5 separate regions of the Homo sapiens genome follow, and regions 2, 3, 4 and 5 are each reported to be linked to region 1. The links are microRNA targets in miRTarBase. Many come from high-throughput screens and were not tested one by one. Region 1 holds a microRNA gene; each other region holds the end of a gene's coding sequence.

Region 1 (4,343 bases):
ATCTCTAGTAAGTCACATCCTGCTTCCAAAGTATACTTATTTTCTAAAACTATTAGCTTCTATTTCAAGGTTTAGTCAACCAAGAAACTTGGCAGATCATAAAATACTTTTTAATGCTTACTAATAATTGGCCACAAAAATAAATCAGAACGTGCATGGTGTAATTCTAATGCTGCATTGCTGAAACTGCTGTAGTGCTGGGCTATCTACTGCTACATTCTGATTTGCTCTCTATAAGCTGCACTAGCTTTTTATCACAAGCTGCAGAAATTCTACTATCCCTGCCCTTTTTTTTCCTCCTTTGACAAATCTGAAAATTTCTTGAGGTTTTAAATTAACCTTCTAATACCACAATAACTGAAGGCTACTTACCAACTATAATTTCTTTTCATTCTAAACTATCAAGGTAAATAAAACCCAGGTGCTCACAGACTAAAACCTTTCAGTTCTTTGAAGTGATACTTTCTAAAAGTTGACGATTCTGACAGTTATCCTTTATACTAAAAAGATTAAAGAATCAAAACAACTTAAACTCACCAAAATTAGATATTTCTACATCTATTTGAATTTGTATTCAACTCATATTTGTATTTAACCCAAAGAGAAGCATCAAAGTGCAAACTTCAGGTAAGGAACTAATAAAGAAAAAAGAATGACAAATTTTCAAATGATCACGAGTTCTTATCTGTGACCTTATAAAACACTAACAAAAATTCATAATCTTTAAAAAAGTTCAATTCACCCACACTCATCCTGGTTTTTCTCCTTGTTGTTTCAACTTCTAGAGTCAATATCAGAAATACTTATTGGTTAATTTGTTAGGTTTTGAGTAAGATATCTAGTTTGTAAAAAAAAAATTGAATTTAATTAATTACTATCTACCTGTAGGATCTAGAAGCAGACTACAAAAAAAGAAGAAATTCACTCTGAAGACTGAAGAAACACTAGGCTGATCTTAAGTTTCCGAAATACACTCTGTAACACTACACTGATTCTTTGAATCTCTTGCAAAAAGAATCAAACCAGGACAAAGTTCAACAGATAACTGGTCAAATGCTTAGGAATGTCTATGTCCACCAAGAATATGGAACCATTAATGCCATGCTTCAGGTAAACTTGTTACAAAATTTAGTCTTCGATAAATTAGTCTCTGCAAATGATTTACCATTGCTCTACATTAGTAAGCTGAATGTTTCACTAACAAATAAGAAAATAAAATATTTCATGTTTTTACAGCTAACAACTTAGTAATACCTACTCAGAGTACATACTTCTTTATGTACCCATATGAACATACAATGCTATGGAATGTAAAGAAGTATGTATTTTTGGTAGGCAATAAACCACCAAGGGAGAATTAAACTGAGCTAAAAGAAGCTCTTGCTTCTTTCTACGTGAATGACCGTCATATGGTAAATTAACCTAGTCATGAACAGATGACCTTTGGCAATACTAACACCAAAAAAAAAAGGTTATCTACTACTGATAGATAGAAACTATCCCTAAGGTTTTTATTTCATGAAGGAAAAGAAGATCCAGTGAAGTAGATTTCAATTATCATGAAACTCCTTTTAAATCATCTAAGTTTAAAACAGACATCTTACATTTTTAAATTAGGCACTCTCATTATTAAAATTTGACTGCAAAAGGGAAAATAGTATTACTAGCACAAAAGAATGAGGAATACACATGACCTATTTTCTGTCTCCACAATTTAATCTTAAGTATATCTCATTAGTAGGGCTCACTGATTTGTACAGAAAAATAAGATACTAAGAGCTGGCTTCATTCACATAATAAGCTATTTCTTCTCATTTTGATAAATGTATAATTAATATTAGAGGAATTTCTGACCAAAAGTTTTGTTGTTTTAAAAAGGCTTTCTTTTTTGACAGCTACAAACATAGTGGCCCTTGTCCTTCCTTCTCAAGTTTATCAGGGTCTTAACCCAAATCTCTACTTTAAATGTGAAGTTAAAACTTAAAATTAATTAAAATGTAAGATTTAAGCATGAAAAATGACAAAATTCTGGTCCACAGCTGTAAGTCAGCAGGGTATATTGGTAACAGACTACCAAATATTTAAAAGAAATTAATTTATCTGTATTATCTTCGAATTTGCTTTCTCCAAAGAGGGCATGTAAAATGAAAGCACTATAGTCAAGAACCAATTTATACAGATCGAAGAACTGTTTTTATTGTACTATGCAATTACAATTCAATTTCTCTAAACTTGATCAATCCATTGTTTAGAAATATCAAAATACTTTTATTTCACACAGTTTGTATATTATTTATAAAAAATTCCAAATAATGCTCTTAGCAAAATTTATAAGCAGTACCTGTTTTAAGCTACTAATGACAAAGTTAGAAAATAAGAGTAATATTCACATATTCTAACCATTTCTTACTAAAAGTATTATTTCAACTGAAATATTTACACATGTATAAAAGCATAATATTTTAAATTTTTTGTATCAGAAATTGAATGGAAATGACTAAGTTTAACTATAGTTCATTTTCTGTTTAATAAGACTAGTTAATACAAAGATGATTTTCATTTTATCAGATTATAAAGAATGAGAATGACTTACACATGGCATCATATGTGTTACTGCATGTTTACTGGAAATTATAAAAGGCACATAATTTTAAAATTCTACACTTTCAAAGAAATTAGTTCAAAGCTTAACTCACATAAGCATAGCCCTTCTGATCATCCACAAAACAGAATGGCAATGATTCATGTTCTATTTGGTAAGTTTACCTGTATAGGTCCTAAATACCAAGAACTCAAAATATATACCTCAAAAGTAGAGGTTCTTCTATAAAAATACTCAAAGCTTATTACTCTACTTGTGTTTTATAATAAACAGTTATATTGGTCATTCTATAGGTATACAAGTTGTTTAATAATCCTTCTCAAACATCCTAGCAACTAAGACTCTCTTTGCTATAATATTAAGACTATATAAATAATCCTTAGAAAATAAAATGACAGGCTATTCATTTTTAAAAGTAAAATTATATGCTGATTCTGGTGCTTGCGAGTTTAACTTATCTAAGAGTATTTTCAATCACTCTAAAATGTCACATCTATCACTTAGATCAGCTGTTCATTTTTAACTGAGTACATATTAAACTCTGGGCATCTGCTGACACTGGTATAACTCAAACATTTCAACTGTCTCCCTGACAGGGATAACAGATGCTGACATTATCAAATGCTGTACTATTTTTTTCCCATGGCCTCTCCTTGCCCCGATATGGCCAGTATATGAAACTGAACTGCCATCCAAAAACACACTTGAGCAACTGGATCTGCTAAACAGCTCCCATATAACTAGTAAAAATAGAAGCCAGTATTATTGCTATCTTCAGCACTTAAGTTTAGGCAGTTTAACACCTGTTTCACTTCTACTAGAAAAAATGATGAAAAAGAATTGTAGTTAATTTCACCAGCAGTATGATACTTACCAACCAACAGACGCAGAATATACTTAGTGTAAGAGTCATTTGCATACTGCCTGAATTAGCGTTGACCTCTCAGTTTAAAATAGTAACTGTAAAGAATATTTCTCTACTCTATATTTCTCTGAGAGCACTTAACTTTATAGGCAAATTATAATTTATCAAACTTTTATTTTATGCAAGAAGACACCCCTCTCAAGACATTGAAATCAACAGTAAAACCACATTATAACAAAAATTTACTCTGATTTTTCAAGTATTATCCACACAATAGATTTTAATACTTGTATCCATGGATTGTAACTAACCACCATGTATTACTAAGGCGATAATGAGAAGTAACTTGGCAATCTGTACCCAAAATGACAAAGAACTTAGTCAAGGAAATAGACCTTTAAAAGGGTTAAATTACTAAGCTATGATTAGTAACACCACGTAAGCAAAAACAAAGAAAAACTGGCATGCATGGTAGTTCCTTTCGACACAAGTCCAAGCAATACACTGAATACACATGTGATCTATTTATAAATCAAAGGGCAGAGGTACTTTCTTAAGGCCACTGATATTCCTACACCCATCAACAATTTGCTATTAGCCCTCAACTATAATGCTAAAAGAAGCAGTGGCAGTAGAAGGGGGTGACTAACTGAACTCTTCCCCAACCTTTTAGCTTAACTATTTATCTGGTTTGCTGCCTAGAGATAAATGGAAAACATTACTCTAAAATACATCAAGGTCTATTTGTTCCTTTAAATACTATTGGTTTTGAAATAGCTTATTGTCTACATGTAAGAATTAAGCAAAGACTTCGGCTGTGGACAAGATTAGAAAAAGAAAAAGAAGCAAAGATGTTGAAAACAAAGACGTACATTG
Region 2 (3,000 bases), not on the chromosome of region 1:
CAGGAGAGAAACCCTATAAATGCAGTGAATGTGGGAGATTCTTCAACCGACGTACAAACCTTACTAAGCATCAAAAACTTCATGCTGAAGCAAAGGCCTGCACAAGCAATAAATGTGGAAAGGCCTTCAGTAAAAGTGAAGACAGTAATAATCCAACACTCCATTTTGGAAACAATTTCTATCAATGTGTTAACTGTGGAAAATCCTTCAACCGGAGCTCCTCTCTTATTCGACACCAAATGATTCACACGGGAGAGAAACCATTCAAATGTAAGGAATGTAGTAAAGCCTTCAACAGGAGTTCAAACCTTGTTAAACATCAAAAACTGCATACTCGAGATAAGTCCTGAAAAAAGAAAAAATGAAAGATTACCTTCAGTCAGAATGCAGAACTCATTTAACATCATGAATTTATGCTGGATAAAATCTCATGAATATAATGTAAGAAAACATTTGTCAGATTTTTCTTTAAATGATATCACAGAATTAATGTTGGATAGAAATATCATTGGATAGAAATCTGTTTGAAGGAATTTTCCTGGTTTTCAGATGAAGCCATAAGGCTTTGGAGTTAAACCACAGTATCACCATACAAGTATTTGTTTATCATTATTTTGATATCCATTACCCTCACCTCTCCCTAGTTCATAAATAGGTCTATAGCATACTAATATCCACCTGATTTATTGACGAAGTAGACATTAGGCAAAGCCAAACAATACTCTTGGAGTTGATATTTAATAAAACTCAGCCCTTTTAAGAAGGTCACAAGAAATCATTAGCTCATGCGAATATAAGAGAATACTTCTAAGGACAGAAATCTCTGAATCAATGGCTAAGACAACAGTAACAGCCATTTACTCCACTCCTGACAATACCCTTTGTTGTCTTGCTGTTGAATGGAGACTAGAGTTGGGAAAGGGTTATCAACTGCAATGGGAGAAGTATGTATTGCTGTTAATCTATATGTATTCTTAAAATCTGCATTTGTTTATAGCAGGTCCTTGAAAAATGTTTTTGTTTTGTTATAATGTTATAATTGTTATGATGTTGATGAGAAAAATATCGATTCCCAGCCAGGGACACTGTGTGGAGTTCGCACACTCTCCCTATGTCTCCGGGTGCTCCAGTTTCAAACCCCAAAGATGTATACATTAGGTTAATTGACATATCTAAATTATCTCAGTCTGAGTTTGTGAGGAAGTGTGCCCTGCAGTGGAATGGCTCCTAATCAGGGTTTGTTCCCACCATTGCCCTGAGCTGCTAGGATGCGCTCTGTCCACCCATGGCCCTGTACTGGAATAACAGGGTAAATAATTATCTTATCTGTTTTTATTAATCCGTCTTAAATGTGTATATAGCTCAGATTTATTTTAATGTCTGATATTGGAAGCGTTTGGGGTCTTTAGAAGTTTGATGATGTTGTGACCAGACATTTGCCTTAGGAACTTAACTCTTGTTTGTATCCATTAGTCTATGGTAAAATTGGTTTTGTTATACATCATTTCACTTAAAGTTGCAGTTCCTAAGAACCTATTGATGATGTTCAGTGCAGACTTACTGTACCTTTGGGAATTTAGGCTGGAGAGACGTCCATAGCCTTAGGTATATCATTTATACCAGACATTATGAAGTTATTAAAGTCTCCTATACTCTGTACACCAGAACTGTGTCTTCTGTAAACTACCTCAGGATCCCATCTGGTTCTTGAGCCAAGAAGTATGACTTAATCTGCCCCAAAAAATTCACACTGGAGACATTCCCAATTAATGATGATGGTAGCTTTTTGTGAAGGTTCATACCTTATTCAAAGGCAGAAAAGGTATACTGGAGTGAACTCCTATGATTAAATAATGTCAAAATCTATGTTTGTTCATCCTTTATATTGCAACACAAGTTTTATTAGGACAAAGCCCTACATAAGTAATTGATATAGAAATTCGTATAAACAAGAGATAACTTGTAGAGAAGCCTAACAAGAGAAAAGCACTCTGAATGTAAAAAATTCTTGAGGTATGTTCATTCATCATAGTACTTACATTAAATACAATGGATTCTGACTTTTTAAATTTAGGTATTCCAAGTCCAATATTTCAATTTTTGAAAATAAGCTGTGATTTTCTTTTGGATGGTTGAAAGATAGAAGTACTATTTTCACTCTTTATCTTTTCTTTGAACAACTAGCTATTTGAGCCTAAGTAAAATACTTATTTTTTTCTCCTAAATCTCCAAGCTTTCTTAAAAAAGTGTTTACTATGTTCACTAAGTTTAACATAACATAGTTTCAAATAATAATTTTTGGAGTGCATTTAAAGCTCTTGCAGAGCATTTATAGCCAATTAACATCTTCTCGCAGCCTTGTTTCACAAGCCTGTTTATTTAGTACATTGTATTAGCGTTCTCTAGAGGGACAGAACCAATAGGATAAATGTATATATAAAGGGGAGTTTATTAAGGAGTATTGATTTACACTGTCACAAAGTGAGGTCCCACAATAGGCTGCCTGCAAGCTGAGGAGCAAGGAAGCCAAGTCCCAATTTTACATAAGAGTCCAAGTCCCAAAACCTCAAAAGTAGGGAAGCTGACAGCGCAGCCTTCAGTCTGTGGTTGAAGGTCCAAGAGTCCCAAAGCTGAACTCGGAGTCTGATGTTCAAGGGTAGGAAGCATCCGGAACTGGACGAAGTAGTAGGCTGGAAGACTAAGCCAGTCTAGTCGTTCCAATTTCTCCTGCCTTTTATTTTGGCCACACTGGCAGCTGATTAGATTGTGTCCACCCAGATTGAGGGTCGGTCTGCCTTTCCCAGTCCACTGACTCAAATGTTAATCTCCTTTGGCAACACCCTCACAGTCACACTCGGGAACAATACTTTGCATCCTTCAATCCAATCAAGTTGGCACTCAATATTAATCATCACATATTTGAGTTTTACTATATACCATCAAAGGTCGATATCTAAGCTGAAACATGAAGAGTGTAGATTAACCAGATTGTGTCTGGCA
Region 3 (3,000 bases), not on the chromosome of region 1:
GTTCAGCTTTTGCTTAAGCTATACTGTCACATCTAGAAATGGAAGTATGAAACAAGTTGTTTTTGAAACAAAATCTGGCTATTTGTTCTGACAGGATGTTTTAAAAGTACTTACTTTGAAAAGACCTCCCTTGGCTGGGCACGGTGGCTCATGCCTGTAATCCCAGCACTCTGGGAGGCGAGGCAGGCGATCACCTGAGGTCAGGAGTTTGAGACCAGCCTGGCCAACATGGTGAAGCCCCATCTCCACTAAAAATACAAAAATTAGCTGGGCATGGTGGCACATGCCTGTAATCCCAGCTACTCAGGAGGCTGAGACAGGAGAATCATTCGAACCCGGGAGGCGGAGGTTGCAGTGAGCCGAGACCATGCCATTGCACTCCAGCCTGGGCAACTCAACACTCAGTCTAAAAAAACAAAAACAAAAAACAAACAAAAACCTCCTCCACCTAAAAGAGTATGTAAGAGTATAGCATACATTTCATATACCACCTTTACTGAAAAGAGCTTCATAAGATGTAGTTTGGGTTGTCCTGAAAAATTGAGGCCTTTAAGTTCTACCTGTATAATGCTCATAGAATATAGTATCATAGAAGTTGATATTTCTACTTTATAAACAGTGGGTTTTGCAGAATCTGAATTCCCAGATATAATTAGCTGGCACCTGCCTACATCTGGGTAATTATTTTTTGAGACGGAGTTTCACTCCTGTTGCCCAGGCTGGAGTGCAATGGCATGGTCTTGGCTCACTGCAATCTCCGCCTCCCAGGTTCAACTGATCCTCCTGCGTCAGTCTCCCAAGTAGCTGGGATTAACAGGCACCCACCACCATGCCCAGCTAATTTTTGTATTTTTAGTTGAGGCGGGGTTTTACCATGTTGGCCAGGCTGGTCTTGGACTCCTGACCTCGGGTGACCTGCCCACCTTGGCCTCCCAAAGTGCTGGGATTACAGGCTTGAGCCACCGTGCCCAGCCATCTGGGTAAAATTGTTTAAAAGTTAGTATCGGGTTTTCACTTTGACAAATATGTTTGGCTCCATGGCATTTCCATGTGCTATGTAATGAAAACACCAGTCACCAACAAACTACCAGTGGTGAAAATGTTACCTGTCATTCCCCCACTTTCTATGGTAGACAGGCATTCTAAGCCACACATCTTTGGGCTCAGATCTACCCACACTTAGGTGCAAAATGTACCCACGGTGGGAAGTGATGTGGAACCCTTTCCTCAGTCAGTATGACACAATCGAGCCTCCTTTTACATTTATAATCTGGGCTTGGATTTTAATCCCCATCTTACCTAGTTCCCACAGCTTGACTACCCCTATTGCCTGTCTACTCAGATGTCTTACCCACTGCCTGCACTGTCTTTTAGCAGTAACTGCAGGTCCCGGCCAGCACTCTTCTGGTCCCAGGTGCTCAGATCTGCTCTAACCAGCTACTTCAGAGGCACATTCTTTTGGCTCAGAAAACACCCCATGCTTAGCATTCATCGCACTAGCACTTTCAAGTTGGAAACAGAGGTGTCAACCCATTTACCATTTGAAAATTTTGGTATTTATTAAATACAAATTCTTATTTTAGGCAGACCTATATGACTACATAAAGCAGTAGAAGTTATTTTTTATACGTAACTAGGTCTTTTCCTGAGAATGGAAAGTCCTGGGAAGATGCCTATTTTAGAGTTATTCTTTATAGAAGAAAACATCAAATTTCAGAGAGAATTAACTGACTTTAAATCTATTAGAGGTCTCCCTCTGTTACTAATTTTTAGTGATCTGGGCCTTATTTTAATACCTAAAAGCCAAATCAAAACAAAGAAACAGAATACTCTATCCTTTAATCTCTTTAATTCACACATCTGTCTTTTGTATAAAAAGGTGTTTTGGTGAACCCACGTTGCTACACCAATGACATTCCACAGTATTAACACTAGAATGACTGAAGTCACATTCATGAAATATACAGGAAATATCAATGGTTCATGAACTGATTACTCTTCTGGCAAGTTAGGGTTGGGTCTCATATTATCAAACTAATTACGATTTTTAATGCCTACTAAAACTCATACTTAATAGGAAGACAATCTATAATTAAAACTGTCCCTTGTTAGGTGGAGAGCAAAGACTTATTCACACTGAATCTCCCATGCCTTGTATAGCACTAGGCACAGAATGGCATTCAGTGTTTTGAGAATGAATGAATGGTCTGCCTCTTGTCTTTGATAACAGTGAATATCATGCTAGGAAAACAGGGGCATGTAACTTTTACTTATCAAACTCTACGAGTTGCACTGAGAATACTCAATCATGAGCATTAATTTGAGAACAGTTAGGAATGAAAGTGGAGTCTCTGGGGCACTTGCCTCTGTTCATGGCCTCCTGTGCAATTTTAGCCAAATAACAGCCTTTCCAGGCCTAGGTTTACCTATCTTTTAATATTACCGGATTTTACGCTTTAAAAATTCTATAAATTACTACCTATTTACAAATCTAGATTAACTGTGACAGATGGTATGTTTAAGGAATTACTTTTTAAAAATCCTTTTTATTACTCTTTTTTAAGAAATGCAACAAGAGCCTTACAAACCATCCATCTGAAGAGCAAGCACAAAGACCGGATATTTGTGGTGCCACCGCAGTTGCAGAAAGGAATGTCAGTCAGAAATGAATTGTGTTTCAGTCACTCTGCATGGTTGCTGCCACGCATGGAACATTTTTAGGCCAACTTTTTAAAATTCCCAGTTAAGGTAAGCAGGAAATTAGATGATCTTCATTAAGACTCCATGGGTGTATCTGAGCTCCTGCTGCCAAAAGGGCCACTAATAGATGAATTTCTTGCACTCCCAAGAACAAGCCTCTCTCGTCTTCCAAATGCTTCATTTACTAAAATACAAATAAACAGGTAAGAAACTAACAGATCAGGAAATTAAGTCAGAATATAAAAAGACACTAAAATGCAGAATTGTGCACTTAGTACTTTATAAATGGTAAAGTGAGTA
Region 4 (3,000 bases), not on the chromosome of region 1:
ACTCGTATTTAAGCTTTTACTTGTGAGTGATTTGTCACTGTTAGAAATATGTTATCATTAGTCATCTATAGTACTTTTTTATTCAACTGAAGAATGTAATCCATACATTAACTAGGGCAAGTAATGAAAAGCAGCCACTTTTTTTTTATCTGAGGAAAGGTCTTAAGGCTGTTGTTAAGAGCAAAGCAAAAGCATCTCTGACTTTTTAAGACAAGCCATATGTTTCAGCTTATAACAATATGGGCTGGTAGTCTGCAGATTCATGTTCCAGAAGTTCTCAATTATCCCGAGAAGATTCATGCTGGGGGGTACATTATGAACGCTTTTGCAATATGAATATATAGGTTTGTAAACATTATTTCTTCTACGTAATTTTAAGGAGCAGATTCTGGCCAGATTTCTGAAGAAACATGGAATTTTCTGCAGTCTATTTATGGTGGAGGGCCTGAAGTTATCCTGCGACCTCCGGTTGTTCATGTTGATCCAGATATACTTCAAGCAGAAGAAAAAATTGAAGTAGAAACTCGGTCTTTGTAATTTTTAGGATGTAGAGAGTTCTAATGAGGAATCATTTTCATGTGCCCTGACATGTACACATGCGAAAACATTCCTAAAAGCGTGTTTATTTGCTTTATTTTTTTTCATCATTTATCCCATTTATTTCTTCTTAGTGGGCATTATGGAAGAATATATTAAAATGTGTAATATACCACAGGTTGGTATATTTAGTTTTAAATACTTACCATAAAGTCTTTCAGTGTAATTTTTTTTTGAGACAGAGTCTTGCTTTGTCACCCAGGCTGGAGTGCTGTGGTGTTACCTCAGCTCACTGCAGCCTCCACCTCCTGGGTTCAAGCGATTCTCCTGCCTCAGCCTCTCGAGTAGCTGGGATTACAGGCACCTGCCACCATGCCCGGCTAATTTTTGTATTTTAGTAGAGATGGGGTTTCACCATGTTGGCCAGGCTAGTCTCAAACTCCTGACCTCAGGTGATCCACCCACCTCGGCCTCCCAAAGTGCTGGGATTACAGGTGTGAGCCACAGCGCCTGGCCCAGTGTAATATTTTTGAAAGAGGAGGGACAATTGTGAAATCAGTAGGTTATCTTTAATCTTTACACTACATGCAGATCCATAGTATCCTTTGTAGTGTTGTAAATACTTTTGCTTTGAAAACTTTTTCATTGTCCTAAATCACCCTGACTCTGACCAGTCTTTCAGTTCTCCAAAAGCCCAATTTAATTGTATAGTTTTGTCATGGCTTCATATAATAAAGAGCCTATTTTAAGTTGAAAGTAGTAGTCAGAAAATTGTTAATTTCCTAAAGCTCAGGAAACTAGGGTGTCACTTTTTTTGCACTGCAGCATATACACTAACTAGCTTATTAAAATTTACAAAATGTCTTTTTGAATGTATCAAGGATATATTTAGTTTGAGTGGAATTTGTCAGCAGATATCAGTAACTTATTGCCGCTTATATTGTACAATGTTAAACTTCAATTCCTGTAACCTGGTTAGTATTAATGTCAGTGACTAAAAAACTTAGAGTTAGTTTTAGGGCACTTTTTATTTTGAGAGCATGAAGTGTGGAATGTGTCACTACGATTGTTGATAAAGCTGAGGCCACTTGCAACTTGATTTTTTAAATGAAATAGATAAAGTCTTTTTGAATAATATAGTATGCACTGCTATTTGCTTGATTATGTAATGTCAAAAGTTTAACTATATTCCAAGTACAAAAACATACTGGATTACATTGAGGATGTTGAATAGCATTCATGATGGCTTTGTTTTGGTTTGGGGCAGCTGTCACCAGCTAAAGCAATGTTGTTAAAATTAGCTCAATAAAAATGTCTTTAAAATGTAAAACTTGAATGTTGAATTTATTTGATAGATGTTAAAGGTAAAAGGTGCAAAGTTTGTTAATATTAATACCTTCTTGCTGTTCCTATTTTATTTTATTTATCTATTCTTTTGAGACAGAGTCTCACCCTTTCCCAGGCTGGAATGCAGTGTCACAGTCTTGGCTCACTGCAACCTCCGCCTCCCAGGTTCAAGTGATTCTCCTGCCTCAGCCTCCCAAGTAGCTGGGATTACAGGTATGAGCCACCACACCCAGCTAATTTTTGTATTTTTAGTAGAGATGGGGTTTCACCATGTTGGCTGGGCTAGTTTCAAACTCCTGACCTCAGGTGATCCACCTGCCTTGGCTTCCGAAAATGTTGAGATTACAGGTGTGAGCCACTGTGCCCAGCCAGTTTATTTTAAAATTTTTATTTATTTTGAGACTGGGTTATGAGACTGGCTAATTTTTATCTCTTTTTTTGGTAGAGATGGGGTTTTGCTATTTTGCTCAGGCTGGTTTCAAACTCCTGGGCTGAAGTGATCCAGCCACCTCGGCCTCCCAAAAAGCTGGGGTTATAGGTGTGAATCACTGCACCCGGCCTCTTGTTATTTCTTAATCAGAAGTATGCAAACAAGTCATTCAGTCTAGTAAAGTTGGTTTTTATTTATTATTTTATTTTTTTTTTAGACAGGGTCTCTCGAGCTCTGTCACCCAGACTGGAGTGCCTGGCGTTGAATACAGCTCACTGCAGTCTCCATCTCCTGGGATCAAGCGATCCTCCCACCTCAGCCTCCTGAGTACCTGAGACCACAGGTGTGCACCACCACACCTGGATAATTTGTTTTATTTTTTGTAAAGTCTGACTTTATTGCTTGGGCTGGTAATCAGTGTAGTAAAATTTTGATGTTTAATGAAATGAATTTTAATAAGCAGCCATTTAAGATCTATTTGAAGTTTTAAAAAATATATAGTAAAATATGATTCTACTATAGTAAAATATGATCTTCCTCAAGGTCTGAATGTTACTGATTTTTTGTGAATCACCAGAATTTAGTGTATTGTCTAGTATTTAGTGGTTAGTCAAAAAAGATTTGATTTTAATGATTGTTATTTATTGAAACTTAGAATGTTTCAGTCATTTTACTAAAGTTATTTC
Region 5 (3,000 bases), not on the chromosome of region 1:
CTATGTGTCAGACATTGTTCGAATACAATCCCCAATGCACTGTCAAATGTAGGACACTGCACATGGGCTCCAGTGAAGTTTTGTGAATAAATAGATTTTTTTCTCTGTAAAGAGATTTTGGTCTCCATGTAAAACAGATTGCCTAATTTTATTCTTCTTTTTAGTATTTCTTACAGGAACTGACAGACTACAAATGAAAGATTTAAATAATATGAAAATAACATTTTGCTGTCCTGAAAGTTGGAATGAAAGAGACCCTATAAGAGCACTGACATGTTTCAGTGTCCTCTTCCTCCCTAAATATTCTACAATGGAAACAGTTGAAGAAGCGCTTCAAGAAGCCATCAACAACAACAGAGGATTTGGCTGACCAGCTTGCTTGTCCAACAGCCTTATTTTGTTGTTGTTATCGTTGTTGTTGTTGTTGTTGTTGTTGTTTCTCTACTTTGTTTTGTTTTAGGCTTTTAGCAGCCTGAAGCCATGGTTTTTCATTTCTGTCTCTAGTGATAAGCAGGAAAGAGGGATGAAGAAGAGGGTTTACTGGCCGGTTAGAACCCGTGACTGTATTCTCTCCCTTGGATACCCCTATGCCTACATCATATTCCTTACCTCTTTTGGGAAATATTTTTCAAAAATAAAATAACCGAAAAATTAACATAAAAGTCTTATTCACTATTCAATGTGTTTACCAGCTCTTTTGGAATTGCTATCATTGCATGTAAGATATATCAATTATAATATAGATTAAGCTGTGTCTCTCACACAATGTTTGCATGACTTGGCCTGAAGGGATACTCTTTACCTTAGAAGTTTTTTTAAAAAACTTGTAATTATCTACCCAATATCTGTTCTCCCCTTCTTTCAGTACAGATTCCCTATATGGTAGGAGTGGCATTGTTCTCAGTCTTAAAATCATACATTTCCCAGCCTCTCTTCAAGGTAGGGACAGGTGGCAGTGGTGACAGTTATTGGGAGAAGCTTCTGAGGAAGCTTTTTTATTTAAATGCTGTTATGCTTTTAATGGAGTTAGGTACAAAATGCATCCAAGCAAAAGAATGTTGTACATACTCATTAACATAGTGATAAATGTAAATTACACTTTGATAATGTAAAATACAGTGTGTTAGGCCCCAAAAAGAAACTACAAAGTTAGCTGCAACTGAAGATACTGGAAAGACTCCGTAGGTTTTTTTTTTTCTTTTTTCTTTTTTTTGAGACAGTTTCACTCTTGTTGCCCAGGCTGGAGTGCAATGGCGCTGTCTCGGCTCATCGCAACCTCCACCTCCTGGGTTCAAGTGACTCTCCTACCTCAGCCTCCCAAGTAGCTGGGATTACAGGCATGCACCCCCACGCCCAGCTAATTTTGTATTTTTAGTAGAGACAGAGTTTCTCCATGTTGGTCAGGCTGGTCTCAAACTTCCCACCTCAGGTCATGCGCCGGCCTTAGCCTCCCAAAGTGCTGGGCTTACAGGCGTGAGCCACTGTGTCCAGCCGTCCTTAAGTTTTTTTTACCCGTCATCTTTATTATTATAATAGTTCTAAATGATAATCTGGGTGGGGCTTAAGGAATAATACAAAGCTCTTTTCAGCTGTGGTTCAAAGAACTTTAGTAAAGCTGTATGACAATGACATTGTGGGACCATGACATTTTCCCAAAAGTATTTCCAATAACATAGGCATTTGAGAAACTTCATAGTTTCAAAGTCTGGAAAGCGGTGAAGATATCTTAGAGAATTTTAAAACATTATAAACCCCATTTCTCTCCTGGAGACTTTTTAAAGCATGGACATGAGTTTAAAGATACTGAGAAAACATCGGTTTTCATAAAGCTTCAATGAACACCCCAAGGTACAAGTGTTGTAAGCAGCCTGTTTACTAAAATGTTGCTGCATTGTACTTTTGGAGGTACAGAAATGCTGTGCCTACAGTGAGAGCACAACTTTATCCCTAGTTAAAAGCACCAGGGGTCAAGTTCAGCTTCCATTTACAGAGGATACACCAGTAATCCCTAGGATAGTGAGTGGTTCAAGTACTACACTACATTTCTAACGTGTCTTACCTATTTGCTCTTAGTCAGCACTGGGGCTCTTTTAAACCCTATGTAGATCTATAGAATATTTTGAAAAGAGTCTAAAACTACCTTGAAAATGGTCTTAATACAGAGCCCTTCTAAAAGAGGGATACTTTTAGAAGGATACTAAATACTGGATACTCTAATAACATTTAAAGCAGGGATGTCCAATCTTTTGGCTTCCCTGGGCCACATGGGAAGAAGAAGAATTGTCTTGGGCCACACATAAAATACACTAATAATAGTTGATGAGCTAAAAAAAAAAATCTCATAATGTTTTAAGAAAATTTACAAATTTGTGTTGGGCTACATTCAAAGCCATCCTGGGGCCTGTGGGCCATGGGTTGGACAAGTTTGATTTAGAAAAAGGAATAAAGAAAAACATTGCAGTAGCTCAGTTTCTTTCAAGTGAAGAAGAAAAATGATGTAAAACTAATATGTAGGCTAAAATGTTTGGTAATTAGTGTCAAAAATTACCAAGATTATTAGTACATGTTTTGGTAATCACTAATGGCAGGATTAATTTTTTGTGCAAAATATATATTAATAGAAGAGAAAAATTATTTCAGCCTCTAATAGAAGAAAACAGCAAGAGAAGCAGCTAAAGAACAATTAAAAGTTAGGGAAGTTTACTAGCTTTAGAATACAATACACTTCAATTACAGAAATACTTCTTTTTAAAACTACAGTGTTTTAATGTACTTTTAGTAATAACCCAATCTAAGGAGTGTGGGAGGCTTGTGAAAAACTCCACCAAGGTGCTACATTTCTAGTGTGGGGTGAATTAATACTTCTGTAAAAAGGAAAGAACTGAGTCACCTCAGCATTTTTTGTTTAAATAGTAACTCATAATCCGATGATGTATTTTTCTTCACTAGTTCAAATTTAGGCAGGAAAGGGACTAAGCTAACTGGTCGGACCCAGAAACA

Evidence for each region. The annotated mature microRNA hsa-miR-1-3p reads UGGAAUGUAAAGAAGUAUGUAU and lies in region 1 at 1,305-1,326, shown strand. An mRNA with a match to its seed (bases 2 to 7 or 8) in the 3' UTR can be bound and repressed. Matches are read on the target gene's strand: a 7mer-m8 pairs with bases 2 to 8, a 7mer-A1 pairs with bases 2 to 7 and ends in A, and an 8mer does both.
Region 2: miRTarBase lists ZNF215 as a target of hsa-miR-1-3p. Seed matches in the 3' UTR shown: 7mer-m8 at 1,757-1,763.
Region 3: miRTarBase lists PWP1 as a target of hsa-miR-1-3p. Seed matches in the 3' UTR shown: 7mer-m8 at 2,650-2,656.
Region 4: miRTarBase lists USP33 as a target of hsa-miR-1-3p. Seed matches in the 3' UTR shown: 7mer-m8 at 605-611.
Region 5: miRTarBase lists HERC5 as a target of hsa-miR-1-3p. The part of its 3' UTR that is shown has no 7-base or 8-base seed match.

What each region holds. Positions count from the first base shown.
Region 1 is chr18:21,825,998-21,830,340 of GRCh38, reverse strand. It overlaps MIR1-2 (microRNA 1-2), which reads left to right and starts at 1,253; the gene lies at 1,253-1,337. All of the region lies in intron 12 of MIB1 (MIB E3 ubiquitin protein ligase 1), which reads right to left. MIR133A1HG (MIR133A1 host gene) reads left to right here. Exons shown (of 3, transcript NR_110369.1): 3 at 889-4,343.
Region 2 is chr11:6,956,182-6,959,181 of GRCh38, forward strand. It overlaps ZNF215 (zinc finger protein 215), which reads left to right. Exons shown (of 7, transcript NM_013250.4): 7 at 1-1,866. The coding sequence ends at 350. It overlaps LOC102724711 (a long non-coding RNA gene), which reads right to left. Exons shown (of 3, transcript XR_002957236.2): 2 at 60-346. Among named protein-coding and RNA genes, the nearest start is that of ZNF215, 31 kb to the left of the region's middle.
Region 3 is chr12:107,711,995-107,714,994 of GRCh38, reverse strand. It overlaps PWP1 (PWP1 homolog, endonuclein), which reads right to left. Exons shown (of 15, transcript NM_007062.3): 15 at 1,833-2,884. The coding sequence ends at 2,775. LOC124903010 (a long non-coding RNA gene) reads left to right here. Exons shown (of 2, transcript XR_007063446.1): 2 at 2,565-2,613. Among named protein-coding and RNA genes, the nearest start is that of PRDM4-AS1, 23 kb to the left of the region's middle.
Region 4 is chr1:77,694,854-77,697,853 of GRCh38, reverse strand. USP33 (ubiquitin specific peptidase 33) reads left to right here. Exons shown (of 24, transcript NM_201624.3): 24 at 380-1,867. The coding sequence ends at 537. Among named protein-coding and RNA genes, the nearest start is that of ZZZ3, 14 kb to the right of the region's middle.
Region 5 is chr4:88,505,509-88,508,508 of GRCh38, forward strand. It overlaps HERC5 (HECT and RLD domain containing E3 ubiquitin protein ligase 5), which reads left to right. Exons shown (of 23, transcript NM_016323.4): 23 at 165-655. The coding sequence ends at 370. It also overlaps the pseudogene NCOA4P2. Among named protein-coding and RNA genes, the nearest start is that of PIGY, 17 kb to the right of the region's middle.